Regions from separate parts of the Homo sapiens genome. Here all the other regions are linked to region 2. Evidence: fine-mapped expression QTL. A gene starts in region 2. Each other region holds a variant in brackets. All regions are shown on one strand. Distances are between the middles of the regions. Region 1 overlaps MAVS (mitochondrial antiviral signaling protein). Region 2 holds the start of MAVS (mitochondrial antiviral signaling protein). Region 3 holds the start of RNF24 (ring finger protein 24).

Region 1 (8,045 bases), 29 kb after region 2:
TCCAGCTACTCAGGAGGCTGAGGTGGGAGGATCACTTGAGCACAGGAGTTTGAAGTTACAGTGAGCTATGATGGCACCACTGCACTTCAGCCTAGGCAACAGAGGGAGACCCTGTCTTTAAAGTACATAGAGGTTTTTCACACCAACACATCTCTGCCCAGTGTGCCAACATCTGCCACCTGCTATAATAGTACTATAACACTCAATATGTAATTAATGTAGTCTCAGGGATGTTATGACAATATGATTACAACTATCACGTGTGTGCCCAGCCAGGCTCAATGCCCCAGGCTGGGCGAGGTGGGGCAGGGGACACAGCCTAAAATGCCAGGCCTCAGGAAGCCATTTGGTTTAGCAGACATTGTTTATTAAAGGAGTTACCTATGCCAGATCGAAGGCCTAAGATGATTAAGACACTATGAGTGCCTTCAAGTGGTTGGGGACGTTCATGATTGTGGTACAGACAAATAGGCTTTCACATCATTCTTTTATGTAATCATACAACAGATATTTGCACCTACATGTGCAGAGCACTGTGATAGGCCTCAGTGACACAGAATAATACGGCAAAGACCCCACCCGATGAGCCCCCTCCCACCACCCACCAGTACAGTAGGGGGTGGTTTAATGGAGTGTTCCTGGAATATGAAGTGGGGGCAGGCATTAGGGGTGGCAAAGGGACAAGTGTTTATCTGATCAGTTATGTACTGTTTATAATAAGTAAATCAGCAGAGGGGGAATAATACTTAGAACCTATAGAGAGTAAATCTGACAAGATGAAATGCTGATGAAAATATGGAGGAAATGAAACTCTCATGGGTTTTGCAGGGAATCTAAGTCAGTGCTGTGTTGTGAATGTAGGTGTACCCTTTGAATTCATATGTTGAATCCTAACCCCCAAAGCAATGGCATTAAGAGGTGGGGCCTTTGGGGCTGGGTATGGTGGCTCATGACTGTAATCCCAGCACTTTGGGATGCTGGCAGGGGGCAGATCACTTGAAGCCAGGAGTCTGAGATCAGCCTGGCCAACATGGTGAAACCCCATCTGTACTAAAAATACAAAAATTAGCCAGGTGTGATGGCGTACATCTGTAATTTCAGCCACTCGGGAGGCTGAGACAGGAGAATAGCTTGAACCCAGTAGGTGGAGATTTCAGTGAGCCGAGATCGTGCCACTGCACTCCAGCCTGGGTGACAGAGCGAGACTCCATCTCAAAAAAATAATAAAGATGTGGGGCCTGTGGGAGGTGGTTAGGTCATGAGGGTGGAGATCATGAATGGGGTTAGCACCTTATAAAACAGGCTTGAGGGAGCCCTTCTGTCCCTTCTACCATGTGTGGATGCAGTGAGAAGGCACCGTATCTCTGAAGCAGAGAGCCCGCCCTGGACACTGGATCTGCTGGCACCTTGATCTTGGACTTCCCAGCCTCTAGAACTGTGAGAAATAATTTTTTGTTGTTTACAAATTACCCAGGCTAAGGTGTTTCATTGTAACCTGAATGGACCAAGCTGGTGTGACCCTGTTGGAAAACTGGCAGTATCTACCAAAAGCCGAACATACGTATAAACTGATCCAGCAGTTCCACTCCTGGGTATGTACACCACAGAAAGCTATGTCCACCGAGACATTGGCAAGAATGTTTCTAACCACACGCTGACTGTAGCCCCAAACCTGAAACAACCCAAATGTCCATCCACCAACCCAAATGTCCATCCACAGTTGAAGCTACAGTGAAGTCACAGGGTCGAATACTACTGCACAGCAACGAATATGAATGAAAATATCGCTATGCACAGCAACATGGATAAATTTCACAGACATGAGGTCAAGCAAAAGAGGTCAGAGTCCTCATCATCAAGAGAGAATTCATTGTATGATTCTCTTCCTACAAAAAGTACAGAAATAAGCAAAACTGATCCATGGTGTTAGAAGCCAGGGGAACAGTTAACAGGGGAGGGATACTGGGGAGGGGCATCCTGGAGTGCTGGTCTACCTCATCTGGGTGTTGATTTCACGAGTATTGTCAGTTTGTTTCCAGACTCCCTGTTGGAGATGTGGAAATAAAAACCACCTAAACAAGAGCAGAGAGGCCATTTGGTCAAAGTTTGCAAAGGAGTCAGCCATGATTGCTTGTATTTGGCAGGGGTCAAAGGCAGGCAGGGACTGTGAAATGTTATAGTGGAAAAAAAGGGAAGGCTCTGGGTGTGCTGTGATTGGAGATTGTTGGCATGGGGACAGAGCGGACTAACTGGAGGGGCATCTTTGGTTGGTTGGGGGGGTATATTTGGCTTTCTCTGGTTGGTCTGGAGTTGGAAGAGGGGGTGTGGTGGCTGGGGATTGGGAAGAAGCTGGCAGCCACTAAGTTCAGACTGTTCTGGGTCCGATTGCTGCTGAGGCTGTGGTTTGGCTTCCTTGGCTTCCCAGGCTGGTCATGGGTTTCTGGCCAGAGTCTATTGTCATATGTGGCCTGGCCATTGTCCAGTTGTATGTTCAGTCTCTTGGAAGGAAGGGTATTGACTCTGAGAGGGGCCACCATCGCTGGAATGGGGGACACACAGTACTTCCTCCAGCTGCCTACACCCCCCTAGGGTCAGTGGCGCCTGCCTGTGAGGGTGAGCCCAATGGCTAGAGGGCTCTGCTCCAAGTCATTGCTTACTACACCCACAAACATTCTTCGTTCTTTAAGGCCTAACTTAAAGCCCAGATCCTACAGGAAACCTTGATTAGACCCCTCTCTTTATTAAGCTTCCTAAGATCAAACCCTGCTTTTGTGTAAATGCTGACCTCCTTGCCTACATTTTAAAAACCTAGAGCTGGGCATGATGGCCCCAGCCTGTAATCCCAGTGATTCAGGAGACTGAGGTGGGAGGATTGCTAGAAGCCAGGAGTTCGAGACCAGCCTGGGTAACATAGCTAGACCACATCTCTTAAAATAAAATAGTTAATTTAGCCAGGCATGATGATATATGCCTGTAGTCCCAACTACTTGGAAGGCTGAGGTGTGAGGATCTTTGAGCCCGGGAGGTCGAGGCTACAGTAAGCTATGATCTCACCACTGTACTCCAGCCTGGGTGACAGAGCGAGACCCAGACTCAAAAAATAAAAATAAAAACCCTGAATATCTTCCTTCTACTTCTTCAGTGCTGTTTTTATTTAAAAAAAAAAAAAA[C/A]CAGCCAAAACCACAACTTTTTACTGAAGTGTAATGTAAATGCTGTAAAAGGCAGTGAAAGGCACAAGGGAGGTGGAGGGGTAGGAAGGGTGGAAGTGGCGGGAGGAAGTGGCAGGGCAGGCAAAATGAAGGGAAGCCCTGGGTTCTTGTCCTGCATCCGCAGCCAGCTCCCACTTTCCTCACCCTCCAGGACCTGTAAACTGTGAGGCTGGACCAGTTATGTCAAATCTGTCCTCCCCCAGAGCTCAGTCCCTCTGCCCTTGGGTGTCCTTGGCACAAGGCAGGCTAGGCTGCACCAGCTTCCTCCATCTCCGTCCTGCCTCCCCCATCCCCAGGTGCCATTCCCACACCATCTGAATCACTGATTTCCTCGCAATCAGACGCTATCTTCCAGTTAATCACTTCGCTTGTATTTAACATAAGAAAGAAAAACCCTTTCATTATCACATACAGCTGGAAATCGGCTTCTTGCAGGAGGCGTATCCAAAGGAATTGGAGAAGAGATAAACTGGTAATTGGTGAAAGAATTACTTTAATTTTTTTTCCTACTTGCTGTCATGATGATGTCCTTAGAATTGTGAGCCCGTGGACACTTCTGTACAATAAATCTGCTATTATTACTTCTAGAACTACAGTTATAATGGTCTACAATGGCCAGATGCCTGCTTGTAATGAGAAGCTACTGCAGTGAAGATCAACAGAGTCAGGGGGCTTGTCTGTGACCTCTCCTCCTTTTCCCTCCTGCCTTCTCCCTGGGGATGGGTGGGTTTCTACTTAAAGACAAGCTCCCAGCTCTCAGACAGAGAATGTATGAGAGCAAAACAGAAGTCACAGTCCTTTGGTACTTAATCTTGAAAGTGACATCCCAGCAGTTTTTTTTTTTTTTTTTTTTTTTTAAGACAAGGGCATGCTCTATCGCCCAGGTTGGAGTAGAGTGGAGTAGAATGTCTCACTGCAGCCTCAAACTCCTGGGCTCAAGCAATCCTCCCACCTCAGCCTCCTGAGTTGCTGGGACCAGAGGCACACGCTACCATGCCTGGCTAACTTTCATGATTTTTAGTAGAGATGCGGTCTCACTGTGTTGCCTATGTTAGTCTCAGACTGCTGGGCTCAAGTGATCCTCCTGGCTCAGCCTCCCAAAGTGCTAGGATTACAGGCAGGAGCCTCTGCATCCACTCCCATCACTTCTGTAAATTGCAGTCAAGGGGCAATTTACCCAGAAGTAGGAACCACTGGAAGCACCATTATAGCAGCTGCCTCTTCAGGAGGGGAATTTGATTCTGTCCTACAAAATGACATATGCATGTGTTTTTTGACCCAGCAATTCCATTTCTAGTAGTCTAAGCCAAAGATAACATTGGCAAAAATAAAGATATATGTCCAAGGCTAGTCATTATAGCCCACTGTGTAAATAGCAAAAGACTGGAAATAACTCAGACAATGTCCATCTACAGAACATTGGCAATAAACCAAGGTATATCTACATTGGAGTGCTATGCAGCTGTGAATAGAAATGAGTATCTCTATACTGCTATGGAGTGAACTCCATGATGTTTTGCTAAGAGGAAAAAAAAAGTGGAAAACTGTATATATAATATAGAATCTTTGGGCTGGGTGGTGGCTCATGCCTGTAATCCCAGCACTTTGGGAGGCCGGGGCAGGTGGATTATGTCAGGAGATCGACACCATCCTGGCCAACATGGGGAAACCCCGTCTCTACTAAAAATACAAAAAAATTAGCTGGCCATGGTGGTACGCGCCTGTAGTCCCAGCTACTCGGGAGGCTGAGGCAGGAGAATCGCTTGAACCTGGGAGGCAGAGGTTGCAGTGAGTCACGATCACAGCACTTCCAAAAAAAAAAAAAAAAAGACCTGACTCCAGTGGACTGAAACTCATCAAATAGGCTTTTAAAATCCATGAGTTGGCCAGGCGCGGTGGCTCACGCCTGTAATCCCAGTGCTTTGGGAGGCCAAGGCAGGTGGATCACGAGGTCAGGAGTTTGAGACCAGCCTGGCCAACATAGTGAAACCCCGTCTCTACTAAAAAAAAAAATACAGTCCGGGTGCGGTGGCTCATGCCTGTAATCCCAGCACTTTAGGAGGCTGAGGTGGGCGGATCACCAGGTCAGGAGATTGAGACCATCCTGGCTAACACGGTGAAACCCCGACTCTACTAAAAAAAAAAAAAAAAAAAAAAAAAAAATTAGCCAGGCATAGTGGCAGGTAGCCTGTAGTCCCAGCTACTCGGGAGGCTGAGGCAGGAGAATGGCGTGAACCTGGGAGGCGGAGCTTGCAGTGAGCCGACATAGCGTCACTGCACTCCAGCCTGGGCGACAGAGACTCTGCCTCAAAAAAACAAAACAAAACAAAACAAAAATAAGCTAGACGTGGTGGCACGCGCCTGTAGTCCCAGCTACTCAGGGGGCTGAGGAAGGAGAATCGCTTGAACCCGGGAGGTGGAGGTTGTGGCGAGCCGAGATCACGCCAGTGCACACCAGCCCCGGCAACAGTGTGAGACTCCGTCTCAAAAAAAAAAAAAAAAAAAAAAAAAACACCAGGCATGGTGGCGCACGCCTGTAATCCCAGCACTTTGAGAAGCCAAAGTGGGTGGATTCTATGAGCTCAGGAGTTCGAGACCACCCTGGGCAACATGGTGAAACCTCCTCTCTGCTAAAATAGAAAAAATTAGCTGGGCGTGGTGGCACTTGCCTGTAGTCCCAGTTACTCAGGAGGCTGAGGCAGGAGAATCGCTTGAACCCAGAAGGCGGAGGTTGCAGTGAGCCGAGATCGCACCACTGCACTCCAGCCTGGGCAACAGAGTGAGACCGTCTCAAAAAAAAAAAAAAAAAGCCACCAGTTCATGATAATACTAAAAAGAATTCATTGTTGACCTCTAGAGGATGCCCCAGGAAACCAACTCATTCTGAAAACTGGTCAGTAAAGGGAAAGAATTGATCCTGCCTTTTCTATTTGAGTAGTTCCAGCTCCTCTGGAGGCTGAGGTTGAGGTACTTCAGGATAACAAAGAGTTGATGAGGGAAGATTCTTTATAGAAATATTCCAGTTAGGCTGGGTGCGGTGGCTCACACCTATAATCCCAGCACTTTGGGAGGCCAGGCAGGTGGATCACTTGAGGTCAGGATTTCGAGACTAGACTGGCCAACATGTTGAAACCCCATCTCTACTAAAAATACAAAAGAAAAGTAGCTGGGTGTCGTGGTGCACAGCCGTAATCCCAGCTACTCGGGAAGCCGGGGCAGGAGAATCGCTTGAACCTGGGAGGAGGAAGTTGCGGTGAGCTGAGGTCGTGTCACTGCACTCCAGCCTGGGTGACAGAGTGAGACTCTGTCACACACACACACACACACACACACACACACACACACACAAATTCCAGTTAACCAAGCATAGAAGAAACTACCTGATTAGAAAATTACGGTAGGGGCTGTAGCCCCTAACGTAAGTAGTTAATGTTATGAATTTCTCTTCTCTTGATGAGATGAATAAAAAGTAAATAGTGAGACATGGTGGCTCACACCTGTAATGTTTTCACTTATAAGTGGGAACCACTTTGGGAGGCCAAGGTGGGAGGATCGCTTGAGGCCAGGAGTTTGAGACCAGCCTGGGCAACATAGTGAGACCCTTGTCTCTAAAAAAAAAAAAAAAAAAAAAATTAGCTGGGCGTGGTGGTGCACACCTGTACCTCCAGGTACTTGGGAGGCTGAAGTGGGAGAATTGCTTGAACCCAGGGGTTTGAGGCTGCAGTAAGCTGTGACTGCACCACTGCACTCTTGCTTGGGTGACAGGGTGAGACCCCGTCTCAAAAACAAAACAAAAATAGAAAAATAATGTTTAAAAAGGTAAATAGCACCTGTGAAGAATTCTTTTAAAGAAATCAAACCTGGGCCAGGTGCGGTGGCTCATGCCTGTAATCCCAGCACTTTGGGAGGCTGAGGCAGGCGGATCACCTGAGGTCGGGAGTTCGAGATCAGCCTGGCCAACATGGAGAAACCCATCTGTAATAAAAATACAAAATTAGCCAGGTGTGGTGGTGCATGCCTGTAATCTCAGCTACTCAGGAGGCTGAGGCAGAAGAATCGCTTGAACCTGGGAGGCGGAAGTTGTGGTGAGCTGAGATTGTGCCATTGTACTTCGGCCTGAGCAACAAGAGTGAAACTCCACCTCAAAAAAAAAAAAAAAAGGCAAAGCAATCAAATATAATATGTTAATATGTTGATCTCATTTGGAAACTAAATTGATTTTTTAAAAAATTTACTTAAGAGACTGGGTCTTGGTATGTTGCCTAGGCTGGACTCAAACTCCTTGTGTCAATCAATCCTCTCGCCTCAGCCTCCACTACAGGCTTTAAGAAATTAGCTCTAAGTCCTTATGGTAGGAAAGCTGTAACTCAGGTTACTGGATCATGGAGAGGCCAGGATTAGGTGACCTGAAAAATGTGGGCTTGGTCTCCATCATGATTGTTTAATTAAGACTCTTGGTTCCAGCTGGGCACGGTGGCTCACGCCTGTAATCTCAGCACTTTGGGAGGCCGAGGCGGGTGGATCACAAGGTCAGGAGATCGAGACCATCCTGGCTAACACGGTGAAACCCTGTCTCTACTAAAAACAAACAAACAAACAAAAATTAGCTGGGCATGGTGGCGGGTGCCTGTAGTCCCAGCTACTCAGGAGGCTGAGGCAGGAGAATGGCATGAACCCAGGAGGCGGAGCTTGTATTGAGCCGAGATTGTGCCACTGCACTCCAGTTTGGGTGAAAGAGCAAGACTCCGTCTCAAAAAAAAAAAAAAAGACTCTTGGTTCCAAGTAACAGAAGACAATGTAAGCTAGATTAAAATATGGGGCGGGAGACTTAATAAA
Region 2 (8,045 bases):
CGGAGGCTTAGATGGAAGGATTGCTTGAGCCCAGGAGTTCAAGACCAACCAGAGCAATGTAGCAAGACTGTGTCTGTTTTATTTTAAAAATAAATAAATAAAACATAAAGAATAACTGTTTAAAATACTATTCAAAATGAAGTCATAAAGGAGGGGATTATGTTTTTTAGTCATAGTTCCCTCAAGGGCTCAGACCGGAGAACATAACCGAGTTTGGAGCCCTCTGGCACTGTCTTTGCGCCTGACCTCTGCTCTCCAGGGGGTGACGTGAGCTGGTGGGTGCTGAGTCATCATGGGTGGGTCACAGCCTCCCTCGGAGGCCTGGAGATGGGCCTGTCTGTGCTGAACTTTACTGGGCAGGGGGCAGCTCCAAGGCCCTCACTGGGGGCAGCCTAGAGCATAGATCACTCTCTGGACTTGCTCTTCTCCTAATAAATGGACAGTGATCAATGAATTACACCCATGAAATAGGGTGGGATGCAATAAGAAATAAAAGATAATATAAATAGCCAGATAGGGTCAAAAGATGATTTATTTTACTTTATATTTTTGAAATAATTTCAGATTTACAACATAGTTGCAAAAATAATGCAAATGTTTACATCTTACATAACCCAGTACAATGATCCTAACACTGACAGATTGTTGTTGTTGTTGTTAATTTGAGACAGAGTTTCACTGTTGTTGCCCAAGCTGGAGTGCAATGGTGCGATCTCGGCTCACTGCCGCCTCTGCCTCCCGGGTTCAAGCGATTCTCCTACCTCAGCCTCCTGAGTAGCTGGGATTGCAGGTGCCCACCACCATGCCTGGCTGATTTTTGTATTTTTAGTAGAGACAGGGTTTCACCATGTTGTCCAGGCTGGTTTCAAACTCCTGACCTCAGGTGATCCACCCACCTCGGCGTCCCAAAGTGCTGGAATTAGAGGCGTGAGCCACCATGCCCAGCTAGATTATTGTTAACTGATCCAAAAGCCTTATTTGGATTTCACCTGAAGTCCTTTTTCTGTTTCAGGATCCAACCCAGGTTCCCATATTGCATTCAGTTGTCATGTCACTTTGGTGTCCTTTTCTCTGGAGCAGTCTCTCAGTCTCCTTGTTTTTCCTGACCTTGAAATTTTTGAAGAGTTATTCTGCAGAGCAGTGCTATCCAATAGAACTTTCAGTGATGATAGAAATGCTCTGTTTGGGCCTGACGCTGTGGCTCACACCTGTAATCCCAGAACTTTGGGAGGCTGAGGCAGGCAGATCACCTGAGGTCGGGAGTTTGAGACCAACCTGGCCAAGGTGGAGAAACCCCGTGTCTACTAAAAATGCAAAATTAGCTGGGCATGGTGGTGCATGCCTATAATCCCAGCTACTCGGGAGGCTGAGGCAGGAGAATCGCTTGAACCTGGGAGGCAGAGGTTGTGGTGAGCCGAGATCACGCCATTGTACTCCAACCTCAACAACAAGAGTGAAACTCTGTCTCAAAACAAAACAAACAAAAAAAATAGAAATGCTCTGTGTCACCGAGTATGAAGCCATTAGCTACATGAAAATAGCATTTGAAATGTGGCTCATGGGCCAGGTGCAGTGGCTCACGCCTGTAATCCCAGCACTTTGGGAGGCCAAGGTGGGTGGATCACTTGAGGTCAGGAGTTTGAGACCTGCCTGGCCCATATGGTGAAACCTCGTCTCTACTAAAAATACAAAAATTGGCCGGGCGTGGTGACATGCGCCTGTAGTCCCAGCTACTCGTGAGGCTGAGGCAGGAGAATCACTTGAACCCGGGAGGCGGAGGTTGCAGTGAGCCGAGATTGGGCCACTGCACTCCAGCCTGGGTGAAAGAGTGAGATTCTGTTTCAAAAAAAAAAAAAAAAAAAAAAAAGAGAAATGTGGCTCGTGGGTCTCAGGAACTGGCTTCTAAGTATTATTTAATTTTAATTAAAATAGCTACATGTGGCTAGTAGCCATTGTATTGGATAGGACAGCTGTCAAATGTCTCTCGTTTTGGGTTTGCTTACTGTTTCCCTATGATTAGTTTCAGATCATGAGCTTTTGATAGGAATACCATAAGCATGTTGTTGTGTTCTTCTTTGTCTAAATCTTTATAAAAGCTGTTGATAGGTGGCAGGGAACCACCTAGTCAGGCAGTGGGATTGTTTGAATGCTCTTTGAGGTCCAGCAAAGACAGGAGTGATAGCTGCACTTGGAAGCCCGCTCCTACACTTTCAATGTTCTTCCTGAAAGAATTAGATATGAAGCTGCTAGAGCTGCTCCGGTGGGGAGCAGGCAGGATTGATTCTTGAACTAATCAACATTTATGCCCTCTTGGCTAAACTAGGCAGAGCTGGTTTTATTACAGTTCAGGTGTGATTAAGCATACTTTGTAAATGCTGAAGGTTGTGAAATATTCACAGGGATATAAAGTACAGTAATAAAACCTCACTTGAGGCTGGGCGTAGTGGCTCACGCCTGTAATCCCAGCACTTTGGGAGGCCGAGGTGGGAGGATCACCTGAGGTCAGGAGTTTGAGACCAGCCTGGCCAACATGGTGAAACTCCGTCTCTACTAAAAATACAAAAATTAGCCGGGCGCAGTGGCATGTGCCTGTAATCTCAGCTACTTGGGAGGCTGAGGCAGGAGAATTGCTTGAACCCAGGAGGTGGAGGTTGCAGTGAGCCGAGATCGCGCCATTGTACTCCAGCCTGGGCGACAGAGCATGACTCTGTCTCAAAAAAAAAAAAAAAAAAAAAGAATAGAAGACCCTGTGCCTGGAAGATCGTAGGTGCTCAGTAAGTGCTGGCCTCTGCCCCAGAAGGGGAAGGGCGAGGCAGATGGCAGGAACTGCGGGAGGTACCTGTCCCAGGCCCTTGGGCGTAAGAGGCCTCTCCCACGCAGCACCCAACCCATACCCAGCCTGCCCGCCAGCCAACCTTGGCGTCCCTGCCTTGCGCCTACCTACCCAGCAGTCCCCCGCCCGCTCCCACTCCCACAGGCCCAGCGTGCACGTCTCCAGGATAGGCATCCTTGCCCCTGTGACTTCAGCGGCACCCAACGTTTATTGGGCACTAACTGTATGCCAGGCCATGGGGGTGCCGGAGAGAACGACACGAAGACCCTCACCCCTCAAAGTTCCCAGGGGGAGGAGGGGCTGCTTCACTTGGGAAGCGTGGGGATGGAATTCTCAGCCCCCCGATGACTCCGAGGCCGGCCACCTGCCTGGTTTCTGGCCGGACACCGGACTTCCCCTGGAAGTTGCTCGAGACTGCGCGCCCCCAGCAAAAAATCAGGTCGGTTCTCCGAGCCCAGTCTAGCGCTTCCCGACCCGCAAACCAAGGCCCAGTGACCGTCCCCGCTGCGCAGCCGCCTGCGTCGCCAGCCAACCACGCGCGGCCGAGTAGCCCCGCCCCTCCACATGGCCAATGGCCGCGCGCTCTGCCCGCCCCGCCTCCTCGCTGCGGGAAGGGTCCTGGGCCCCGGGCGGCGGTCGCCAGGTCTCAGGGCCGGGGGTACCCGAGGTAAGATCGCTTCCCGGGCGTTGGGTCCTTTCGGCTCAGCACGCACGGACGCCTTTAGGGAAGGTGGCTGCAGCGGCAGGACGGAGTCCGCCGGGACGCCCTGGGTCTGGGGTGCGCGGGGGGCCCAGGAGGGGACAGGACGCGCGGGGATCCGGAAGAGCGGGCCCTGTCGCAAGAGTTTCGGGAACACTGAGGGCTCCAGGCGCCGCATCCAGCATCCGGGGAAAAGGGGGTAGGTGGCGCTGGGCGTCTGCTCAGGCTGGGGGAAAGGTAGGGCCAGAAGGGGACGGGCAGCGGCCGCTGACCTCCTCCTGCCGCCCGCGGGCCCAGGGTGACGCTAAGGTGGGGCCGAGCCTCGACCGGGTGCGCCTAGAGGTCGAGTGCTGCCGCCCTCCGCTGGGTCTGGACAGTTCTCGGCGGCGACACCAGCTCAAAACGGCCTCCCCGCCCTCCGCGGACCTGGGTCGCGCCCAGGAATCCGATCCAAGGCTGTGAGGCCTGTCCCTTTGGGAAGGGTGGGTGTTTATTTCCGGGATGCACTCAGAGCCTCTGGACAGTCAGGTCGGAAACTTTGCTGTATTGGGAACACTCTGTCACCTACTTCCTTCTCAGTTGGGAAGGAAGTGCCAAGAAAACATGAAACAAACCAAAAACACGAAAAAGGGATTCTCTGTATGGAAGCCGTGAAGCCTCAAAAATATCTAGGAGGACAGCCAGCGACCTGGGACCTGTGGCAGCCATGTGAAAGCAGGGTTAATGTCTGGACTAAATGTTGCTTCCACCTAAGTGCACCCTCAGCCTCCCTCCCGCCAAGTGACCTTGGGTCCTCTTTGGGCTTGAAGGCAGGTGGCTGTGTGGGTCTCGCTGCAGGGGTCTCTGTGCCCTGCAAGGTGTATGACCAGTTGCAGTGAGGCAGCAGGTTTTGGGTTCAAATCCTGTGCTAGCCTCTGGCCAGCTGTGCACCTTGGCAACACTTTCCCTGTCACGGGATTGGGGAAGGATTAACTGAAAGAACCTTAGGATGTGCCTGTCTACAATGGGCCCTCCATAAATGTGAACAAATGTGGGCTTCCTTTCCTTTTGTTTGGGCCACATCATCCCTTCCCCTCCATCTGTGGCTGAAGCTGGAATGCAGAAGAGTGCCTCATCTGACTGCCTTCTGGTACCTGGCTGATGCCATGAGAAAGGAAGGAGAAAGGGGTCTTTTTTTTTTTGAAATGGAGTCTCACTCTCTTGCCCAGGCTGGAGCGCAGTGGTCCAATCTTGGCTCACTGCAACCTCTGCCTCCTGGGTCTAGAGATTCTCCTGCCTCAGCCTCCTGAGTAGCTGGGACTACAGGTGTGTGCCACCATGCCTGGCTAATTTTTGCATTTTTAGTAGAGACGGGGTTTCACCATGTTGGCCAGGCTGGTCTCAAACTCCTGACCTCAAGTGATCTGCCTGCCTCGGCCTCCCAAAGTGCTGGGATTCCAGGCGTGAGCCACCGCGCCCGGCCGAGAAAGGGATCTATTAACTCCCATAGAGTTGTTCTTTGCTAATTTCTTGAAGGCTCAGAGGACCCCCGCCTCACCTTCCTGATTCTCCTGACCTGTCATTAGTACTTGCCCCACGAGGAATGTAGCAGGGCCTGCTGGCTGGCAAAGCAACTCATGCATGTGAGGCTCTGAGGCCAGTGACAGGACTGCTTCCCCTGTGAGGAAGGTCTGGTGGCCCAACAGCTTTTAGGTGCTGTCTGCTCTACAGCACTGCCTCCTGAGAGAGGTCTCATGCCTGCCTGATGCCCACTTGGTCCTCTCCTGCCTCCTTCCCTCCCTGACAACCCACTTGGAATCCAATAGCATCTCAAACTTCACTTGTTCCGAACTGAGTTCTGGAGTCCCTTCTGAGCCACTGCTCCTCCCCTGGCTTCTCTGGCCTGGTAAAAGGGCACCTTCCATCCACCCAGTGCCCAAGGAGTCATGCTTCTTTTCTCTCCCTTATCTCCTACACCCTCAAAACACCAGGAATCTGGCTGCCTCCTGCCATCTCTGTGGTTCCCATCCTGACCATAGTCATCCTGTCTCCTGGGCTGTGGCCTCCTTACTGGTCTCCCAGTTTTCATCCTGGCCCCTCCAAAGTCCTCACAACCACCAGAGAAGTCTTTAATGTAAATCAGATCCTCTTCTTTCCCTGCCGGAACCTTCCAGTGGTTCCCTGTTTCACTCCAACTAAAACCCAGAGTCCTTTCCTACAGCACTCTACATGAGTGGCCCCTGCCACCTCCTTGACCTTGACAATCTCTGCCCCTTTCCCTAGCTTGCTTGCTTTTTTTTTTTTTTTTCCTATGATGGAGTTTTGATCTTGTCACCCAGGCTGGAGTGCAATGGGATGATTTCAGCTCACTGCAACCTCTGCCTCCTGGGTTCAAGCGATTCTCCTGCCTCAGCCTCCCGAGTAGCTGGGATTACAGGCGCCCACCACCATGCTAATTTTTGTATTTTTAGTAGAGAAAGGGTTTCACCATGTTGGCGAGGCTGGTCTCAACCTCCTGAGCTCAGGTGATCCACCCGCCTAGGCCTCCCAAAGTGCTGGGATTATAGGCGTGAGTCACGCAGCCAGCCATCCCTAGCTTTCTTGACCTAGACCACACTGACCTGCTTTCTATTCTTCAAACATGCCAAGCTCATTCTTGTTTTAGGACTTTTGCATTTACCATGCTCTCTGCCTAAAACACCAATCTTCTCAGAGCCTGAGAACAGCTCAGCTGTGTTCTGCACGCTAGTTCAGAAAGGCTTCTTTGACCCCCTAGTTCAAGTAGCATGCCTGTCTCCAGGGGCTCTGTCTCATTACCTGCTTTACTTTCTTTAGAGCCTTTATTGCTATCTGGAACTCTTATTTGGGTATTAATTTACTGATCTGTTATTTGTCCCACCCCATTAGAATATAAATTGGATGTGGCATAGACCTTGTCTCTTTTATTCCCTGCAGCACTCCCTGATGGGGGCGGCAGAAAAGTAACGAGCAAATACATCTATAACTGCAAATTGTGGTAACTCCTACATAAACAACTGGCAGCAATTGCTTATATTTGAGGCACTTAAAAATTTTTAAGCTGGCTGGGCGCGGTGGCTCATGCCTGTAATCCCAGCACTTTGGGAGGCCGAGGCGGGCAGATCACGAGGTCAGGAGATCGAGACCATCCTGGCTAACACGGTGAAACCTGTCTCTACTAAAAATACAAAAAATTAGCCGAGCGTGGTAGCAGGCGCCTGTAGTCCCAGCTACTTGGGAGGCTGAGGCAGGAGAATGGTGTGAACCCGGGAGGCGGAGCTTGCAGTGAGCCGAGATTGCACCACTGCACTCCAGCCTGGGTGAAGGAGCGAGACTGTCTCAAAAAAAAAAAAAAAAAAAAAAAAAGAAATTTTTTTAAGCTGCTGGGCGCGGTGGCTCACGCCTGTAAATCTCAGCACTTTGGGAGGCCGAGGTGAGCGGATCACCTGAGGTCGGGAGTTCGAGACCGGAACATGGTGAAACCCTGTCTCTACTAAAAATACAAAATTAGCGGGGCGTGGTGGCTCATGCCTGTAATCCCAGCTACTTGGGAGGCTGAGGCAGGAGAATCGCTTGAACCCAGGAGGCAGAGGTTGCAGTGAGCCGAGATCGCGCCATTGTACTCCAGCCTGGGCAAAAAGAGTGAACTCCATTTCAAAAAAAAAAAAAAAGGCCAGGCGCAGTGGCTCACGCCTGTAATCCCAGCACTTTGGGAGGCCGAGGCAGGCGGATCACGAGTTCAGGAGATTGAGACCATCCTGGCTAACACGGTGAAACCCTATCTCTACTAAAAATACAAAAAATTAGCCGGGTGTGGTGGCGGGCGCCTGTGGTCCCAGCTACTCGGGAGGCTGAGGCAGGAGAATGGTGTGAACCCAGGAGGTGGAGCTTGCAGTGAGCCGAGATTGCACCACAGCACTCCAGCTTTGGTGACAGAGCGAAACTCCGTCTCAAAAAAAAAAAAAAAAAAAATTTAAGCTTAGAGGCCGGCCACAGTGGCTCAGCACTGTGCAGGCCAAGGCAAGAGGATCACTTGAGGTCAAGAGTTCGAGACCAGCCTGGCCAACATGGTGAAACCCTGTCTCTACTAAAAAATACAAAAATTGGCCAGGCGCGTTGGCTGGCGCCTGTAATCCTAGCAACTTGGGAGACCAAGGCAGGCAGATCACCTGGGGTCAGGAGTTCAGGACCGGCCTGGCCAACATTAAAACATATAAAACCCCGTCTCTACTAAAAATATAAAAATTATCCAGGCATGGTGGCGTGTACCCGTAATCCCAGCTACTCGGGAGGCTGAGGTAGGAGAATTGCTTAAACCCGAGAAGCAGAGGTTGCAGTGAACCGAGATTACGCCACTGCACTCCAGCCTGGGCAACAGAGCGAGACTCTTTCTCAAAAACAACAACAACAACAAACAAACAAATTAGCCAGGCATGATGGTGGGCACGTGTAATCCCAGCTACTCGGGAGGCTGAGGCAGGAGAATTGCTTGAATGTGGGAGATGGAGGCTGCAG
Region 3 (8,045 bases), 170 kb after region 2:
AAGCTCAAGTTAGTTTCTTTTTGGTCATTTCTTTTTTTGTCATTTCCTAAGGTGGATTTTTAAAAAATGCACCTGACAGCCGTCATGTTGGTTCATTTCACTGCTTAAAAGAAACTCTCTCTGATGTCAATTGATATTTTCATTGTTGATTTCATTTAAAAGTAAAAAAACTTAATCCCCTCTCTCAATGAACACATACACATCTACAGTGCTTAATCTCAATGCCTAAACAGTGGTCACAAGGAAAATGGGAAGGGAGATGCTGGCCTGATGGCGCTGGGCACCTAGCAGTGCCAGGTGCATGTTCTTGATCTTGCAGCTGTGCTCTTAAAACACAATGCTCAAGATCCAAAACGTTCGGGGGAGAATTCCTGTCTGCACAGGTTCAAGAGGAGGAAACAAAGACCCCACTGCTTGATGGAGGCACAAAGAATAGCATATTGGGTGAGATGGGGGGAGTATGCACACACATACATATACAGCCTTTTTGGAAAATACAATCTACCCCACAAGCAAAAGTAAAGAAAAATATCTATTCCAAGGTACATCATGAAATGTCAGGAACACCAGGGATAAACTGAAGATCCTAAAATCTTTCAGAGTGGGAAGAAAAAGGGAATGAGGATTAAAATGACATTGGACTTCTCAATAGTGACACTGGAAGCTAATGGAACAATGTCTTCAAAACAGTCACATTAATTTTCAATCCAGATTTTAACACCAAGCTAAACTACCATTCAAGAGTGAAGGTAAAATGAAGGCATTTCCAGACATGTAACTTCTGAATTCAGGAAGGAATTTCAGATTTTGTATGTACCCTTTCTCAGGAAGCTACTCAAGAATAAGGAAGACACAGGGTCCAGGAAATAGAAGACCTAACACAGGAGGAAGGCAAAGGGAATTCCCAAGATGATGACAAAGGGAAGTCCCAGGATGATGGCTATGCAGTAGTCCAGGGAGCAAACAATTCCAGACTGGAGTAGGAGAGAGGGGGCTCCAGCAGGACCATCTCCTGGGGAAAAGATATGAAAGTGAGTGACTACCTGAGAATATTCAAAGATAATCAGTTTTGTCATAGAGTTTGAATGAATTAGTGACTGATACAAAGAAAACTCAGCAAATGAAAACCAAACAAACAAAAGAGGCAATTATTTAATTCAGGAGCAACAAAAGTTGTTCAAGAAGAAAACACAGTAATAGCACCCTACGTGGCTCAACTGTGAATAACAGGTACACTGTCAGTCATATAAATCCTGAATACCGACCTAACTGTCAAGTATGAGTGGGAAATGGAAGGATAGTTATGTGAGACAGTTAAGTCTTCAACTTCCAAAATAGAAGTCCACAGAGAATATCCAAAAGTGAAGAGCTAAGAAATAGCAGTATAAACATTAAAAATGAAATAAGTATAAAGGTAAATACCAAAAGAAACCAGTAAGAGTTGAGAGTGGTTTAACTATATAATATATAAGACTGCTGATTTTGATTTTTTCTCAGTCTCAACATGGCAATTTCATATGATTCAAGCTAACACATTGTAATAGCATTATTACTGATCTTAGAATAAACTCCCATTTAAAACAATAAACAATTATTGGCCGGGCGCGGTGGCTCACACCTATAATCACAGCACTTTGGGAGGCTAAGGCAGGCAGATGGCTTGAGGCCAGGAGCTCAAGACCAGTCTGGCCAACATGGCAAAACTCCGTCTCTACTAAAAATACAAAAAAAAATTAGCCAGGCGTGGTGGCCAGTGCCTGTATTCCCAGCTATTCGGGAAGCTGAGGCATGAGAATCACTTGAACCTGGGAGACGGAGGCTGCAGTCAGCCGAGATCACGCCACTGCACTCCAGCCTAGGGGACAGGGTGAGACTCCATCTCAAAAAAAAAAAACAACAAAACACCCAAAAAACAAAAAAGCAATTATTGATAGAGAATGCTCAATGGAAAAATAAATTACTTTTTATTATGAGACATTACTGGGAGGATAATAGATCCTAGTTAACAAAGTGTTACCATCTATGCTCTTACCATCACTAACATAATATTACTATTCTAATGAATAAATATTTACTATTAAAACAGCACTTAACATTATTTTATCTATTTTAAGGATCTAAAAGTTAGTTTAGATTTTTTCTTCAATCATCATACTACAGAATGCTAAACTATGGGTTGGCAAATACTTTGATTAACAGAATGCTGAATAACAAGGCCAGGCTGTGTTTAGGTTCCTTTGTTGATATTAAAAATAGCTAAGTCACTCTTGCAAAATTAAACTTCCATGAAATTGCGATACTGTGCAAGCTTATTTCAGTGATAATTCCGGTTATGCTACTCTGTTTATCTAAGACTTCCCCTTACGGTTTGTTTTAAGGAGACTCCTAAAAAATGTCTTATGCAGTCAAGACAGGCAGTTTATAAATGTACTGGGTTACTTCAACATTAGTGACTTTAGTTAGTAAAGCTCTTGTTTTTTTTTTTCTGCTTCATTTTTCCTTCATAAAAGCCTTGTTTTAAATTAACTTATCTGAATTAAATTAATTGATATTAAGATTTTATTTAAATCATGCATTAAAACCAAAACATCCCCAATTGAAAAATCAACTTTCATTAATTTTTTTTTACTCTTACAAAAAAGAATTTGAACGTGGTAAGAATTTTACTAAGAATAATGTATCCTGAACTGACCATGGAAAATTTCCCCTTCAAATTAAAAGCAAATGTTTTAAACAGAGGGAATATACATAAACAGATGCTGTGGAAGACTGCTTAGTTTACATTTCATTTTCCACTGAAAACTACTAGGAATTAAAATACATGTGATTTTTAAAAATATTACAGAGAATCTTAAAGAAAACAGAACCCATACAATTATTCATATCATCCAATATAAGCGCCTCTTAATTTTTTAAAACCGCTATTTTGAATCCAAAGATCATAATAAAAATAGCTTTTTTTTCAGACGGAGTTTCGCTCTTGTTGCCCAGGCTGGAATGCAATGGCGCGATCTAGGCTCACTGCAACCTCCGCCTCCGGGAGTTCAAGCGATTCTCCTGCCTCAGCCTCCCGAGTAGCTGGAATTACAGGCGCTCGCCACCATGCCCGGCTAATTTTTTGTATTTTTTTAGTAGAGACAGGGTTTCACCATGTTGGCCAGGCTGGTCTCAAACTTCTGACCTCTGGTGATCCACCCACCTCGGCCCCCCAAAGTGCTGGGATTACAGGTGTGAGCCACCGCACCCGACCCATAATAAAAATACCTTGGAGGTGTGTTTCTTGTAAATGAGTGGCTAATTTCCCAACACCCTGTAAAAGTATATGGGTAAAAAGAAACTGAAAATCATCATGCAACCAGAGTTAACAACTATCTTGCAAAATTCATATCATTTGTTTTAAAACCAAAATAGCAAGGAAGAGCTGGTGTTATCCCAATAGCCTCTTTTTAATTGGTCTACAACAACTGCAACTCTTCATAACTTTACCAACACAACAAAGTCAGGCAGGCAGTCTGACAGAGTCAACGTTTGTGGGAACCTACAGCGCTTCCTTCTCTCTCTGGAGATGAGGACAATGAAAAAAGGTGTTCTGTTTTCCAGTAGTCCTGTAAGAGGAGCCATTGAGCTGGGCTGTACAACCAGACAACAGAACACAGGAAAATTCACATCAAAGCAAGGGCGCATGCCAGGGTAATATGCAATAAAACCCTCTGCCAAAGCATTAAGGGGAAAAAAAAGCAAGGAGGTAGAGAGAACCTGCTGGACTACCTTCTCATTAACACAGGGAGGCAGAAAGAAACAAAATCTGCCTGTATTCAGGAGCGGAGAAAACTGTGTCCTAGATATATTGGAGTATTCCTATAGACATGTTTATGAGCATTCGGACAAATTATCAATGAACTAAACCCAGAAAGCAGTGTCCTGTACGGTGGAGTATTCCTATGTAGACAGACATGAGAATCTTACCATTAACTAAGCCCAAAAAGGCAAAGTATTCTAGAAACACAGATATATGAGAATTTAGATGCACATTTCCAATGAATAAAACCCACTGGTTTTACAGTGAGAAAAAACTGTTTGAAATAACATCAGGTAAAGAATTGGGTAAAGGTGTGATGAAGTTATATCCCCTCCCCTTTTCCTCATACCCTTTTTGACAATCTCTGATTCTCTCATTTCATAGATGTCCCTTTCACTTGAATGCGCACACACACACACACACACACACACACACACACACACATCATTAGGTCTCCAGAAACAAAGGAGGGTCCTTAATTCTCCGGCCTGTGGAACCACACACGCCCCCTGCCCACAGATGGTGACTTTCATTAATGAGTAAGCCGAGGGAAGAGGTCTCCACCCCGACCACTGCCATGCACACTGTGACAACGGGGCACGAGACAAGCGCCACAAAGAAAGGGGAGGAGTGGACGGGGACCAGGAAAACACTGCCACGCCGCACCCCCCAAGGCGCGCGCCCACCGCCAACGCGGGGGCAGCGTCCTCGCCATCCTCCTCCTAGCCTCCCAGCTC[A/G]TCCCAGCCGCCTCCCACGCCCGGGGACCCGATGCCAGGGCTTGGGCGAGCAGGACGTGCGGGGGCCCACGCACCTTCCCTCCGTGATCTCCAGGTGACAGCCCCGCTCCGCCCTTTGTGAGGGACTCACCCTCCAGTCCCGGGGCCGCGCCGGACCCTCCTCCGCGTCCCTCCTCAGCCTGGAGACACCGCCTCACCCCTGCACACCGCGCCCGGCCGGCCGAGGCGCCGGGAGAGTGTGTGTGTGTGGGAGGCTGGCGCGGGCCCGCGGTCTCCTCAGCATCCCGAACCCGGAGCGGCTCGGTCCCCCAAACCCCAGCCCGGGGGCGGCGGCCGCGGCGCTCCCGCCCTCGCTCGCTCACTTACTCGGGCGCGCCGGTGGCAGCGGCAGACGTGCGGGACCGTCAGCGCCCTGCGGCGGGCGGCAGGCTGCGGGCGGCGAGCGTCCGTCCGGACAGAGCGCGGCGGAGGTGGCGGCGGCTGACTGCGCCCGGCGGCCCCTCGCGAGGGGCGGGCCCGCCGGGGGAGGGGCGGGCGCCGCGCCTCTCATTCATGCAGCGGGGGCGGGGTGAGGGACCCGGATGCCCGGGCAGTTTCCCCACCCACCTCGGCGGAGGGCTCGGCGGCTTCAGAGTCTGCAGTGCGCAGGCGCGGCGCTCCCTGGCCAGGCCTGGTGCGGCCCTGGCCGCTGGCTCTGTTCCTGGTTAGAACTACGCCAGACAGGCCGGGCGAGGTGGCTCACGCCTGTAATCCCAGCACTTTGGGAGGCTGAGGCGGGCAGATCACGAGGTCAGGAGATCGAGACCATCTTGGCTAACGCGATGAAACCCCGTCTCTACTAAAAATACAAAAAATTAAATTAGCCGGGTGTGGTGGCGGGCGCCTGTAGTCCCAGCTACTTGGGAGGCTGAGGCAGGAGAATCGCCTGAACCTGGGAGGCGGAGCTTGCAGTGAGCCGAGATCGTGCCACTGCACACCAGCCTGGGCGACAGAGCGAGACTCTGTCTCAAAAAAAAAAAAAAAAAACAACTACTCCAGACAGACCTTCTCCATCGACCGTTTAGTATTTTTGCGTGCCCTACAAGCATTTTTAAAAGTGAAAGCATGGGGCCGGGCGCAGTGGCTCACGCCTGTAATCCCAACACTTTGGGAGGCCAAGGCGGGTGGATCACCTGAGGTCAGGAGTTCCAGACCAGCCTGACCAACATAGAGAAACTCTGTCTCTACTAAAAATACAAAATTAGCTGGGTGTGGTGGCTCATGCCTGTAATCCCAGCTACTCGGGAGGCTAAGGCAGGAAAATCTCTTGAACCCGGGGAGCGGAGGTTGCAGTGAGCCAAGATCGCACCATTGCACTCCAGCCTGGGTGACAGAGCAAGACTCCGTCTCACACACAAAAAAATGAAAGATTGGAATGCCACCCCTTTCCTAGCATGCAGATTGACAGTCCCCAGAGACACAAGAATGGTCACGTGGTGCCCATTGGTTTGATGGGGAGATGGTATGCACCGCACCCTCCTCCATCTGCCCCTCCTGCTGCAGCCTCTCAGCTGAGTGCTAGAACCTTGGTGATGGATGAGACCTAGACTCTGCCCAGATAGTGGAGAGAGGTGTGTGCAAGAAACAGTGCATTCCTTTATTTACATCCACTCCTCAACCTCCGGCTCCCATTCTACAGGGCAGGCAATAAATTGACCTCCGATTTTGGGAGGCTGAGCTCTTCCTGCAATACCAAGGCAAGGATCTGGGGAGTCCTCTCTTGTCTTTAGCAGGCAGTGTATTCTGCAGATACTCTCTTGTTCCCATCGCCTTGTGTCTGCCACTCCTGGGGTACGGAAGTTTCTGGAGAGGCTAGGAGCCTGCAGAGGGAATGGCTGTGAAGCTCCACAGCTGACTGTGTGTGCGCTGCAGCTCAGAGCTTGCAAAAATGATTGCCCCCTCTTCCTCAGTCTCCATGTGTCCCCCAGAAGTTCTCCTTCCTTCTCCTAATCTCTCAGGCCCCATCACATAAACCATAAACAGCTCAGTAGCTTAACTTTGGGAAGCAAAAGTCATCATGGCAAGCGCCTAGAGGCATGTTCCTTCTGCTTTGGCAAACCATTAACCACCAAGGCAGGGAGGAAGTAAAGAGGGAAACATTAGTGAATTTCTCAAGAAGTCACCTGCCACCCAATGGTCACAGTCCCCCAAAGTGAGAGAAGGGTGGAGGCATGTGCTAGGGAGACTGTGGCAAAAGGAAGGGAGTGGGAGACCCAGGCTTCCTCTAGAGCTGCCTGTGCCAGGGCTGTGCTGGGGGAACACTGCCCTCCTTGCTGTCAATCATAGCAGTTACCTGGAGGGTCTTTTCAACTTTGCTTTGCTCAAACCTCTCACTGTTCTAAATCAGCCCCCTCATCTCTCCCCTGGGCTGTTGCAGAAGTCTCAATCCATTCTCATGCAAATCGATTCTCATGGTATTCAAATCTGCCTGTGTTTCTGTCTTTTTCTTTTTCCCTGCCCCATCTGGCTCCTTGAGCCTTATTTTCCAGCCATTTACAGAACAGCACCATGGTGTTTCACCTCAGTAGTCACCAAGGTGACTGCTGTTTCCTGCTGTTCCCCTACTAGGAAAGCAATACTTACCTAGCATGCAAAAGTTGCTCTTTTCTCTGAAAATCCACAGATGCTTTTTAGGGCAGTGAAAATACTCTGTGTATGATACCATAATGGTGGATACCTGTCATGACACATTTGTCTAAATCCATAGAATGAATAATACCAGCAGCAAACTCTAATGTAAACATGGATTTTGGGTGATAATGATGTGCCAATGTAGGTCCAACAATAGTAATAAATGCTCCCGTGGGAGAATGTTTATAATGGGGGGGCTATGTATGTGTAGGGGGGAAGGGCTAGTTGGGAACTCTGCACATTCCTCTCACTTTTGTGGCAAACTTAAAACTGCTCTAAAAAAAAGTAAAGTATTTACAAAGTCATTTTTGATAAAGTATTTTTTTCTGCCCCCACTTATTGACAGACTTTCCTTGAGAATCCCCACCTGTGCCCTGTACCCACTTCCCTCTCAGCACTAGGCACCCTCCAAGGTCCCTGCTCATTTGCATATTTTCTTACCACACCAGCATGTGAGTCCTTCATCAGCAGGATCAGTATCTCCCAGGACCTAATATGTGACTGGCACATAGTGGGTCTGCTGTGGCTATTGGTGGAGGTGATGTTCCCTGGTGGGCTGGGGAGGCTCCACAGGAGAAGGAAAGGCTGAGCTCCTTTTCTTTCTTCTTCCTTATTTTGGCTTCCTTCCTCTGCCCTGCGTTTGGAAACCTGTTTTGTTTGTTTGTTTAGAAAGCTTGGCTAGTAATTCACTAGTCCAATCAGGCTGTAGGGTAGAGGATGGAGTGGCTCATTTCATGTCTTTTGTTCTTGAAAAAATTAGGGGTGAGTGGGAAAGAGAATGAGAGAATGAACGGAAGGAGGAGGGGCCGTGTCCAGTTGCTGTTTTCAGGGAGACTCAT

What was found. PIP is the estimated chance that this variant, and not a neighbour inherited with it, causes the effect.
Region 1: its variant is fine-mapped to the expression of MAVS in whole blood (TOPMed, PIP above 0.99).
Region 3: its variant is fine-mapped to the expression of MAVS in whole blood (INTERVAL, PIP 0.99).

Annotation. Positions count from the first base shown.
Region 1 is chr20:3,872,320-3,880,364 of GRCh38, forward strand. MAVS (mitochondrial antiviral signaling protein) reads left to right here. Exons shown (of 7, transcript NM_020746.5): 7 at 1-3,799. Among named protein-coding and RNA genes, the nearest start is that of PANK2-AS1, 13 kb to the right of the region's middle. The variant C/A (reference allele first, on the strand shown) is at 3,171.
Region 2 is chr20:3,843,404-3,851,448 of GRCh38, forward strand. It overlaps MAVS (mitochondrial antiviral signaling protein), which reads left to right and starts at 3,431. Exons shown (of 7, transcript NM_020746.5): 1 at 3,431-3,500. RefSeq lists enhancers at 214-358, 1,347-1,486, 7,441-7,942, a cis regulatory region at 281-291 and silencers at 2,848-2,897, 3,328-3,707.
Region 3 is chr20:4,010,535-4,018,579 of GRCh38, forward strand. It overlaps RNF24 (ring finger protein 24), which reads right to left and starts at 5,024. Exons shown (of 6, transcript NM_001134337.3): 1 at 4,903-5,024. RefSeq lists a silencer at 4,531-5,130 and enhancers at 5,014-5,946, 6,150-6,751. The variant A/G (reference allele first, on the strand shown) is at 4,537.